Linked DNA regions of Homo sapiens: all the other regions are reported to be linked to region 2. Evidence: microRNA targets listed by miRTarBase, many of them from high-throughput screens and not tested one by one. Region 2 holds a microRNA gene; each other region holds the end of a gene's coding sequence.

The links. The annotated mature microRNA hsa-miR-577 reads UAGAUAAAAUAUUGGUACCUG and lies in region 2 at 1,164-1,184, shown strand. An mRNA with a match to its seed (bases 2 to 7 or 8) in the 3' UTR can be bound and repressed. Matches are read on the target gene's strand: a 7mer-m8 pairs with bases 2 to 8, a 7mer-A1 pairs with bases 2 to 7 and ends in A, and an 8mer does both.
Region 1: miRTarBase lists ZFYVE21 as a target of hsa-miR-577. Seed matches in the 3' UTR shown: 7mer-A1 at 623-629.
Region 3: miRTarBase lists PGRMC1 as a target of hsa-miR-577. Seed matches in the 3' UTR shown: 8mer at 772-779.

The regions. Positions count from the first base shown.
Region 1 is chr14:103,732,549-103,736,548 of GRCh38, forward strand. It overlaps ZFYVE21 (zinc finger FYVE-type containing 21), which reads left to right. Exons shown (of 7, transcript NM_024071.4): 6 at 72-214; 7 at 435-1,116. The coding sequence ends at 470. PPP1R13B (protein phosphatase 1 regulatory subunit 13B) reads right to left here. Exons shown (of 17, transcript NM_015316.3): 16 at 3,455-3,654; 17 at 647-2,647. The coding sequence ends at 2,606. Among named protein-coding and RNA genes, the nearest start is that of ZFYVE21, 19 kb to the left of the region's middle.
Region 2 is chr4:114,655,611-114,659,758 of GRCh38, forward strand. It overlaps MIR577 (microRNA 577), which reads left to right and starts at 1,149; the gene lies at 1,149-1,244. All of the region lies in intron 2 of UGT8 (UDP glycosyltransferase 8), which reads left to right.
Region 3 is chrX:119,242,920-119,246,919 of GRCh38, forward strand. It overlaps PGRMC1 (progesterone receptor membrane component 1), which reads left to right. Exons shown (of 3, transcript NM_006667.5): 3 at 232-1,547. The coding sequence ends at 335. It also overlaps the pseudogene AKAP17BP. Among named protein-coding and RNA genes, the nearest start is that of PGRMC1, 8.6 kb to the left of the region's middle.

The sequences.
Region 1 (4,000 bases), not on the chromosome of region 2:
CCTTGGGGCTGGTGGCCGCCTGGGCACTCAGGGCCTCCTTTGGGCCGTCTTACCTCGTCTCTCTCCTCCAGGAGGCAACGCACGGGCCACAGGCATGTTCCTGCAGTATACAGTGCCGGGGACGGAGGGTGTGACCCAGCTGAAGCTGACAGTGGTGGAGGACGTGACTGTGGGCAGGAGGCAGGCGGTGGCGTGGCTAGTGGCCATGCACAAGGTACCTGAGCCCAGGCCAGGGAGGCTGGGCCCTTTGGCTTAGACAAAAGCTTGCCTTTCCCAGAGGAAGCTCTGTGTCCTGCCATTTGCCCCCTATCCCCACAACCTGTTCCCCCTCAGCTGGGGTGCCCACGCCATCTCCCCTGAAATGCACACAGGCTTGGCTCCACCAGGCACAGGACCAAGCAGGCCTCACTGTGTTGATCTTGTCTGATCTGCAGGCTGCCAAGCTCCTCTATGAATCTCGGGACCAGTAACTCTACGTGGGGCTGAGCTTGGAGTACGTGTGGTCACCAGGACTGAGTCGCTTGGAACAGCAGAGCCTGCTCCTTGCGTACCACAGGGATTAATCCTGCTTGTGCTGGGAAATGCAACTCACTCATGTATTTGGAGAAACAGGAGTGTTCACTTATCTAGTGCAATATGTTCACAGTTTATTAATGCTTTAAACAGCTTCATGTTTTAGAATTTGTGTATTGTCAATACTTAATTGGGGGTGGGAGAGACTGAGCTACACTACTGCTAAACTATTTTTAGCATAATATATACCATTTTTATGAGTTCGCAGGTCTACTAGAAGGTTCTGGCCCATCAATATTCATTTCATTTAATTCTTCCACAGAACCAGTTTGGGCAGTAGGAACTCAGGCTTCTGGTCTGCAGTGGAGCCTGTTCGCCTCTAATAGCCAGTTTACAGCACTTGCCTTAGCCTGTTTCACAGACTTGTCCACTTACCTTGTCACTAATTTGGGGCTTCTGGGCTGTGAGTGATCCTTTGATACTTCACCAAGGGGAACGTGGGGGCTTTGTGTTTTGTACTTTTCACTCACTATTTCACTTTATTAAGATGACTGTACAGCAATTTGTATATAAAGCTTATGATTAAAAACTATTTTGAACATACGGACAAGGCCTCGCCTTCCTGTGTCCAGATCACCTGAACCCTCGTGCCACAGCGCAGTCTGGGTCCAGAAAGAAGACTCACAGCCGCCGGGGTGAGACGGGTTTATTGTGCACATTTACACAGCGTCAGCAGCGTCTGGGCTGGCAGCGGCCATGCTCCTGTGGTCGGGCTGCTCTACAAGGGCGTTCACTTTTCTTCACCACACTATGTACAGTCAGTGCTCCAAGGTGATGGGCTACAGTGCTGCATCAGTGAGTCTGTACACACATTTTTACATAAATTACACACGACTCATACATGAAAAATAGAGCCTAAGGGCCTGTATTTTAATGAGAAAAAAAAAATTTCCAACATAGTTCGGGTAGCTTTGAATGGTCTAGTCAAAAAATACTTTTGGTATATAAAAAGCCTGTACGTACAATTCACACCTCAGTGAAGCGCCCTCCTTGCCTTGAGGCTGGGCCTGGGACAAAGGTGGCCTCACAGCCAGCCCAGGCAGGGAGATCGGCAGAGAGGGGTGGCCCCTGACCCCAGCTCCTCTGCCCCAGCTGCTGCTCCTTGGTGGCGGCCCCTCCTGACACCAGGCGTCTGCCATCCTTCAGGCACCAAACAGCCCCGTCTACCTGGCCCTGGTCTGCCCTCACACCAGTCCACCCCCAGCCCCAACCCCAACCACCCTCCGCTGCCACGGCCTCCAGCACCTGACTCCATTCAGGGAACTGAATTTGAGCTTGCAGGGGTGAGAACCACACTGAGCAGCATGACAGGCTGTGAGATCGGAGGAGAAGAGTATATGCTGAGGCTCTCCCAGTTGTCACTTGGTCTTAGGGGTCCTGGTGCCCGTGGCGCGGCAGTCCAGCCACAGTGCTGGGCCTGCACAATCAGCCTTTAGGTGAACTGGAACAGGAAGCGGAACCCCCAAGGCGGCCGAGCAGAGTGGGTACTGGGAGGCATACACACTGGGCAGCAACACTGGACATGTTTCCATACAGAGGCTCCTTTGGTGATGAAGGGAAGAAGGATCATGTGTGGGAAGTGTGAGAAAGGATGAGTGTCCGATTCGGTGACGGGGGGCAGGGCGGTCGCAGGGGAGCAGGCCTCACAGCGGCGGACAGTGTTCACTGCTGGAGGGGGTGATGGCCTCGGGGCCAAGTCAGTAAGAGCTTCTGTCTTCACTGGCAACCAACCGGGGGTTATGGGACTTCTTAATGGCAAGAGGGGTGGGTGTTTTGAAAGTGGGTATTTATTTGGATTTATAGTAATTGGCAAAATTCAGTCCTTGGAGGCGAAAGTACCTCTCCCAGTTAATGGGCAAACTGGAGAAAGGGCCTCACCTGGAAACTGTAGGATTCACATTGTGGACGCTGTCTGCTAAAGTGAGCACCATTAAGACCATTTTCTAGCTGCAGCTTTCCTGGAAAACAGCACAATAATCTCTTAAGTGGCTCCTGGTAGCTGGCAAGACCATGCGGTGCTCCAAAAGGAAGTTCAGGCGAGTGTTCGCTGTCGGGGTTTGATCCGTGGATACAGCTGGGAAGCAACGGAGCCGCGTCAGGACAGGAAGCCACACACAGGGAGCAGGGCCAGCCAGACCCGACCCCTGCTCCTCACCTCAGCCACCCTGGACAGCCGTGCAGCACCCTTGTCCCTCAGGCCTACGCTCAGCTGCACCTCTACACTGAGACCCACCCAGCCCTCTTTAAAATGTGCCTTGTACCCCCAGAATATCCTATTTTTCTCACAACACTTCATGCCACCTAAAGACTTGTGACTGCCTGTGGCTCTCAAGGTCATAAGCTCCCCTGGGCAAGGGTCTCTGCCTGGCTCCCTGCTGTGTTTGCCTGGCCAAGAACGTTGGCTCAACAGCAAGCCCCTGGCAGCTCTGCAGGGCACAAAGAGAGCAGAGGCAGCTCCCTCTGCCAGAGGACTGAGGGAATCACAAGTCCAACACAGAGCTAGCAGCCTGCACGTTCCCACCTCTCCCTCCACTGGAGAAATTTCTAGGCTGCAGAGATTTCTAGATTGGGGAAAGTGTGGGTGGGCTGAGCCGGGCCACTTGGTGAAGTTCATCATGAACCGAGCTCATTGAGCGGCCCCTCACTGGGGCACTCAGCCTCCGCACGGGCCTCCATGGCATAAGCATGGCTGGGGGAACCTCCTGGGGCCCTGCCTGAGCCTCATGCCAGCTCTGCCAAGTAGGCACCTCCCCCTCTACAGAGGGGGCTGCTGAGGCTCAGAGAAGCGAAGCCTCCCTCCCCAGCCCCACAGCAGGATAGGACCGCATGCTGTACAGAGACACGGGCAGCTAGTTTCCCAGTAAGTAACCTGAGTGCTCACCCCCAGCAGGTTTTTGGGCACATAGCCCTCCCGGTCTCCAAGGCGAGCCCACCACCACTCAGTCTCGCTTTCGTCCTTGCGCCTCAGGATGGTGAGGGCGTCCCCTTCGTGGAAGGACAGCTCGTCACTGTTCTGGGCCTCGTAGTCCCACAGAGCATACGCCACACCTTTGTTCATCACACCCAGCTTTTCCTGCACCCCTGGAGCCAGAGAGCAATGGTCAGGCCTCAGCAGAGGGTGGCCTGCAGCAAGGGACCCTGCTCGAGGAACAGGACACAGTCGTGCTGCTGCCGAGGCTGCTCTCAGCAGGCCCCACAGAGGCCAGCGAGGGAGATGAGACACTATTGAAGACTAGGGCCCCCACCCGATACCTCCCCTGCCCGGCCCAGCTGCTGCTCCTGCTGCCGGCCCTTTCTAAGTCCTGCAGGACAGACAGGACAAACGAGCTCCTGAGCCCCAGGGCAAGAGTGTGCTGTTCTTAAGGTGACGCTTAGCAATCACAGCCAGAACAGATTTCTAAAGTCACTAGCTAGAGCAGCTGTGACT
Region 2 (4,148 bases):
TTATTTTTTTTACCAGAACCATCTGACAATAAGATTTCTATATGATACCCTGTCACCCTCCAAAACATTGATATATATTTTGTGCACATGAGGGCATTTTTCTGCATAATCACAATACAAACCATAAAAATAAGGAAATTAACAATGATATATTACTACCATCTAAGTTTTACACCTCAATGAAGTTTTGTGAGAGCCACTAATAATGTCCTTAATAAGGAAAGGATCCAGTTCAGAATTATCAGTGGCCTTTATTTGCTATGTCTTTAGGCTCCTTCTTGAACACTTACTCAGTGTTTCTTAGATTCTCATTGTTTTGATGTTGTTGAAGGATATCGGCCTGTTGTATAGAATGTCCCTCAATTTGGGTTTATCATTTGTTCCTCATAATTGGATTCAGGTTTTGCATCCTTACAGGAATATCACAGAAGGGATGCTATATTCTGCATGTTGCATCTGATTAGGTGGTACGTGATTTTGACTTGCTTCATTATTGATGATGTCCACTTTAATCGTTTGATTAAGGTGTTACTTACAAGACTTCTTTGCTGTCACATTACTAATTTTACTTGGTAGTCAGAATTGGAAGCTATGTAAATATTTCTCATCAGTCTCTGTGTCTTTATGGCATAATACTGATTATCATGAAAAAAATTGAGTGTTTTCTTTTTGTTTTTGTTTTTTTTTCTGGAAAGAAAGGAGGCAGACAGATTAGCTAGCAAGACTGCCTTTCTTTTGTTTATGTAGGTCACATAATTTAGTAGCTAAGCTTGATTTTTGAAAGGAGACATTTCTTTAAAGTGCTCAATAATTTGTTTAAAGTTCTAGGGAAACGACAGTGTTATTTATCCTGTTAACTGAATGGCAAAATAAAGCAGTGTACTTGCTGTTTATCCTTTCAAAGACTTAGATTACTATTAGCTTTCTTGATTTATTAAAAGAAATAAGTATTGAGCACCTACTGCATCTTACACCTAGGAGAAGAAAAGTCTTGTGAATAAACTCACATGCTACAAGAAGTGTGGTAGGTGCCCTGTTGAAAGAACAGGTCTCACAGGGGAGAACAATAGAGGAGATACTTTGTTGTGATCTTGGTAAATAACTGTGACCTGAGGGGGAAGTTTCAGGCACCCAAGGCAGGCTGTATTTGGGGGAGTGAAGAGTAGATAAAATATTGGTACCTGATGAATCTGAGGCCAGGTTTCAATACTTTATCTGCTCTTCATTTCCCCATATCTACTTACTGTAGGTACGGCCTCATTAAAAAATATAAACTCTCTGAAGACAGAACATTTTGTTTATTTATTCTTTGATATGTCCCAAGTGTCAGATATGGTACATAGCAGCTGGTCATGGCTATCAAATAATCATTTATCAAATAGTGACCCAGAAATTAGGTGGGTTTCCAAGTCCATTAATCAAATTTCTTTTGTAACGTAAGAAAGATTTAGATATCATTTCCGTAGTGATTTTTTTTTTCTGGTGAGAGTTTCACCTCCGTTTATTATTTTTGTCCTTTTTTTCTATCTCGTGGTTACTTTCCATATCTCCTCAGTACCTTGCCATCATCATATCCTCGGGATGTCCCTGCTGCTTGTGTTCAGTTCCTTGAAGGTCTTAAGAACCTTGAAAATTTAACTTTTCAAAGTCAAATCAGGGTTTCAAATTTTGCTTACTTATTTTAATTGTAACTGTACTGGCAAAATTAATCAAGCTCACAATGAAGAAAAACCGATACTGCAGAATCTCAGTGGAAATGAATACACCCTTCTGGGTGCTTATTTCATTCTCCTGAACTTTCACTGTGTTGAAGGCATCTTTTGAGATTTTAAAAATAGAACCATTGCCTTGACATTGATCTCTCTATTGCTTCTGTAGCGTAATTGTAGTTTATACCCTTCTAGATGATCTGGGAAATCATTTGAGTTTTCTGAAAAACTGAAAACTAGATTTGATGCTGCATGTGAACATTTTTGGTACTACTTTTCATTTATGTATTTTAAACAACTTTATTCTGAAAAGTCCAAAACATAGTGAACAAATACAACTGAGAGAAAATATCTTGGTGCAGAATGACCTTTTTTTTTTTCCTTTTCTCAATGTGGATATCATTTCAGTCCATAATCTGTGTATTACTTATCAGATATCATGGCCAGGGAAGAGAACAGCATAATTTTTAGTTGACAAAGCACTTTTATATATTTAATCTCATTTAATCTCTGCAGTGTGCTTGTAAAGTATCGTAAGTGTTTTTAGAGATGAGGAAGCTGGGCCTCAGAGAGAATAGGTGGCATCATTAAGATCATACAGCAAATTGTGGAATTGGGGTTTGAAGCAAGCCTCTTGCCAAACAAATCAGTGAAAACAATGATTGGTGCATTTTTATTTTGAATGGTGACCTTTATATTTTCAGTGTTGTTTGTTGTTGTTGTTTAATAAGTCTTGGTTAACTATATTAGCAGTAGTCAGAGATCACATTTGATATCCCAAGATTTTTTTAAGAGCATTTGCTATCAAAATGTTCACTATCATTTTACCTACTAAATTTTGCAGAATGAAATTCTTTGCAACCCACCTGACCAAAGCAGAGCATTCTTTGTATCAGAAATATTAAATGGGAAAAGAGGCCTATTGATGTTGGTGTTGGGAATAAGAAAAGGAACTCCAACACCCACCCCCCTCATCTCCCATTATCATCTCTGTGTAGGATTCTCTCACAGTCCAGGCATTCTTTTCCTCAGAATGGATGGGGCCAACAAAGGATGCAGTGTTATAGGTTTCTCTACTGTGCTGGCCCCTTCTCAAGGCTCCCATTCTTGGAGGAGAGAAAAGAGTGGGTTTGGGTTGCAGGCTGGTATCAGGAGAGATCTGGAGTGCAAACATGACAGCCTAGTGTGTCCCCACACCTCAGACCTGTTATCCTCTCTAGAGGTCTAAAAGACTCTGATGTCCTCAGAATCCAGGATAGCAAGGATGGAGGTGGGCTTGCACCGTTCAACTTTTAATTATACTTGCACTGTTTCTGAAGCTCATTTTTTAAGAAGCTACTTACAATTTTCTTGCATTGGGATGTGTTTTACATTGGCCACAATGAATAAAAAAAAATTGTTTATTTTCGGATAGGGGGATGAGTATATTTTTAAGAAGGCATTACCCAATGAGTGTCTTCTTTAAAAGTTTCAAGATCTTGCTTTCCACTTCTTTGAATATTTTTTCACCATCTTCCATTGTTTGACATCCCTAATATCAAAACATTACCTGAAAATAATGAAAATTTTATACTTTGGGAGTAGTTGCTCCCCGAGTCTGACTCTGGTACATTGCTTAGCTTCTGTTCTGCCCCATCTCCAGCCTCACAGAGCCAGGCTGCTTTACCGGCTTAAGCTGGACAGTACCACATGGAGGGACATGGGAGGACAACAAGCCCCTCACTACATTCTTCCTGTGGTCCAGTCAAGGCATTTGGTATATAATTACTCTAGGATAAGAAATCTGGCAATACTAGAAACAAATCAGTGTCTATCCGGATCACGATCATTAAAATAAATGCAAATACTTAACATATAGCATCTGATTATAGGAAATAGAATGTATATTATCCATATTTCCTTATTATGCTACCTTTTCCCATAAAAGACTTCAAACAGATGACTTAATCCTACAAGAAGATAAAATGATTATTTTTATTGTAAGGTTGTCTTTTCAAAAGACATAGAAAATTACTTTATAGCTATAAACAAAATTACTTTATAGATATCTGTTACTTAAGTTGCATAGGAATGGAATTATTCATTCTGATATAGTGAGGGGAGTGCCTATGAGTGTTGCTGATTTCTGGTTCAGTATTTGGTCCCTTATTGTGATCATTTTCTTTTCAATTTGAAGATGTCAGTTTTTCCCCTATACCCATAGAAGTAGTCCGGGATTGGGCATGTAAGCAGGTTGAGCCCAGATGTCGCTCCATTCCTGTCCTGCCATCTAGTGGAGAAATGTGCATGCAGTGCTGGTCTACGTACAAGACGATGCAATTTCTAAATTCCTGTATTGAGTGAAATGGAAGGCTTATTCTGTACCTTATCCACAAATATTCATAACTTACTTAAGAAGTAGTAGTACTGGTAGTAAATGGCCATTGATGAGTTACCAAA
Region 3 (4,000 bases), not on the chromosome of region 2:
CTTGCACACTCATTGCCAGACGTTGCCACCTGTTTTATATGTCTGTCTTCTGAACAAAACAAATTCCCTGTTGGCAAGGACGGTGGTATAAACCACCTTTGTATCCTTCAAGAAGCCCAACACATTGCTGAGTATATTGCAGGCCTCTAATAAATGCTTTAAATTGAAACGTGGTAATGATGTTTTAGAAAGAATGAGAATGACCATTTGTGTTTTCTTCTCTACCTCCAGTCAAGTATCATCACGTGGGCAAACTGCTGAAGGAGGGGGAGGAGCCCACTGTGTACTCAGATGAGGAAGAACCAAAAGATGAGAGTGCCCGGAAAAATGATTAAAGCATTCAGTGGAAGTATATCTATTTTTGTATTTTGCAAAATCATTTGTAACAGTCCACTCTGTCTTTAAAACATAGTGATTACAATATTTAGAAAGTTTTGAGCACTTGCTATAAGTTTTTTAATTAACATCACTAGTGACACTAATAAAATTAACTTCTTAGAATGCATGATGTGTTTGTGTGTCACAAATCCAGAAAGTGAACTGCAGTGCTGTAATACACATGTTAATACTGTTTTTCTTCTATCTGTAGTTAGTACAGGATGAATTTAAATGTGTTTTTCCTGAGAGACAAGGAAGACTTGGGTATTTCCCAAAACAGGTAAAAATCTTAAATGTGCACCAAGAGCAAAGGATCAACTTTTAGTCATGATGTTCTGTAAAGACAACAAATCCCTTTTTTTTTCTCAATTGACTTAACTGCATGATTTCTGTTTTATCTACCTCTAAAGCAAATCTGCAGTGTTCCAAAGACTTTGGTATGGATTAAGCGCTGTCCAGTAACAAAATGAAATCTCAAAACAGAGCTCAGCTGCAAAAAAGCATATTTTCTGTGTTTCTGGACTGCACTGTTGTCCTTGCCCTCACATAGACACTCAGACACCCTCACAAACACAGTAGTCTATAGTTAGGATTAAAATAGGATCTGAACATTCAAAAGAAAGCTTTGGAAAAAAAGAGCTGGCTGGCCTAAAAACCTAAATATATGATGAAGATTGTAGGACTGTCTTCCCAAGCCCCATGTTCATGGTGGGGCAATGGTTATTTGGTTATTTTACTCAATTGGTTACTCTCATTTGAAATGAGGGAGGGACATACAGAATAGGAACAGGTGTTTGCTCTCCTAAGAGCCTTCATGCACACCCCTGAACCACGAGGAAACAGTACAGTCGCTAGTCAAGTGGTTTTTAAAGTAAAGTATATTCATAAGGTAACAGTTATTCTGTTGTTATAAAACTATACCCACTGCAAAAGTAGTAGTCAAGTGTCTAGGTCTTTGATATTGCTCTTTTGGTTAACACTAAGCTTAAGTAGACTATACAGTTGTATGAATTTGTAAAAGTATATGAACACCTAGTGAGATTTCAAACTTGTAATTGTGGTTAAATAGTCATTGTATTTTCTTGTGAACTGTGTTTTATGATTTTACCTCAAATCAGAAAACAAAATGATGTGCTTTGGTCAGTTAATAAAAATGGTTTTACCCACTATAGTGTGGTGACTTATTTAAATTTTTTTAAAAACCTTATTCTAGGGAATCTGATTCAGACATTTTACTTTGGCTTAAAATTCAGTTTCATTTTTGAGTGCAGAGTTTTTGTATTCCAAAAGAAACAAGGGGCAAAATTTCATGGAGACCCCACACCAAAAACCAAATACCAGCTTGTCCTGTTTAAGAAATAGTGAATTGAATTGCTTTTTTTGTGACTTGTCAAAGTTTTGCCTAAATCAGAACTTTCTAAACTGTAAATGGCAGACCTCCACCTTGAAGTCTATAGCAAGGTTCTTAAGAAGTAAGGTTACTGAAGGCATTGTCATTGCCAAGTGCTAAGGAAGGGTTTGGGTTTTTTTGTGTTAATGTATTGTCTGATCAGGAAAGTATCAGGAATCCTTACAGTAGCAAAGTTAATTCACCTCGTGTCAAAAGAAGCATAACAGATTTGCATATGCAGTCAGTTGTATAAACAAAGACAACCTATTAGTGTTTTGTCATTTTAATGTTAACATTGGCAGAGTTTTCTTATAAGAGATATACTTCCTGAACCAAAGAAATTTCCATTTTTCATGTTATCAAACCACATTGCAGGTACTTGTGAGTTTTTTTTAATGTGCTCTTTTTTTTTCCCACTTGGTTTCATTCACCAAATGTTTGAGTGCCTGTTTTGTGCCATGTAACCTGTTATGCCTTATGCTTTGGAGAAGGAGTGGGGGAGAGAAGTTGGGCCCACCTTCGCAGCCTGAAATCTCATGTGCATGTGAAGATTAGGCTACTCATTTTGCAAAGTTAAACAGGCTTGTCTGCTGCCAAGAGGAAAATATCCAGAGCAAGCTTGTCCAACCCATGGCCCACGGGCTGCATGCGGCCCAGGAAAGCTTTGAATGTAGCTCAACACAAATTTGTAAACTTTCTTAAAACATGAGGTTTTTTTTGCAATTTTTTTTTTTTTTTTAGCTCATCAGCTCTCGTTAGTGTTAGTGTATTTTATGTGTGGCCTAAGACAGTTCTTCCAATGTGGCCCAGGGAAGCGAAGAGATTAGGCACCCCTGATTTAGAGCCTCACTAAAGTTTCACTCCCAATAACCTGATTCTCTTCCATTCAGAGCTGAATCAACATTGTGTTGGTTACTTGGAAAGGAATATTGCTGTAAGGCAGGACTTTGATCTAAAAACTTCTCAAATCCAGCTAGCATATACATAAGCCATATTCATGTAAAAGGCACCATTCAAGAAGATGGTGGTGTCGGGGGGAGGGGGGGTAGTTGTTACAACCACCACATGTCCAGTGAAGGAGGGAGGTGTTAGGTTAACATCTGGCTTGCTCCCCACCTGCTGTCATCCTACCAGCTGCAGAGACAGTTTGTTCTCAACTAGCGTCTGTGGTTCATAAGCAGCATTTACTACGTGTTTTCAGTATCTGCATATCTGGCTTCCCTGCATAATGTAACATTCACCTTACTTCAGAGGGCCAAATTTATGCAAATCCTAGATCAAGAACAAGCATCAATACATTTCTTGCTGTTTCAGAAAGAGCTCTTTGAACCTGACGGACGCTTTCAGCTCTAAAGTGCCCAGATTTTACTCCAAGGTAGTCTGCCTTTGTTATGATACTTAGAGGCAGTTTGCTGTATATTTCACATGAAAATACAGTTAACTCTTGAATGGTCAAAGACTGATTATTGAGGCCCCTACCTTCTCTGACTAGACTGTCCATCCCAAACCCATAATTGTTTTTGCACATTGTATAACTTGAACACTTCCACCCAGGGCTGAAGGAATTAGGTGAAATTCCATGGAGTCAATTTTGCTACCTCTTATTAGCACTGATAAAATGTGCTAAAGGGAGGATCATCTTAAATCTAAATAACATTATTTCGGTTTGTCCAAAATGAAAATAAAACTATGGTCTTTAGTCCCATGAACTCTGACAATGTCAGTTTCCACAAAATGGGAAAAGTTGCATAGAAATGATATTAAAATTAGGCATCTATATTTCCACAGAAAATGTTATTGTGGATGTGCAACATGCTAGCCAATACATGTGATAAATGAACAAAGAATATTCACTATGATAATTTTATTTTTAATATATCTGACAAATATGTATTCTCTAACAATGCAAATGAGAAAAGAGATCAGCAACATTAGTGCAAAGCAGCATACTGTAAGTAGGAACTTTCCCCCAAAGGTGGACTTATCAGCATTTATTTAAAAATGACTATTTTAAACAATTTTGCAACAAGTAAAAATAAGTTTATTTGATTCTTATTTTCAAAATTACCAGGTTACATGGCTTTCTACCTGAGAAATTTAAACAAATTGAAAGCACATTGACATATTTTTAGTTTTTTTGCATAACTACCAACAACTCATAAGAAAAACATGAAAATACCTTAAGACAAAGTTTAAAGCTCAGGCCCTTAATAGGACATAGAAAAAGATATG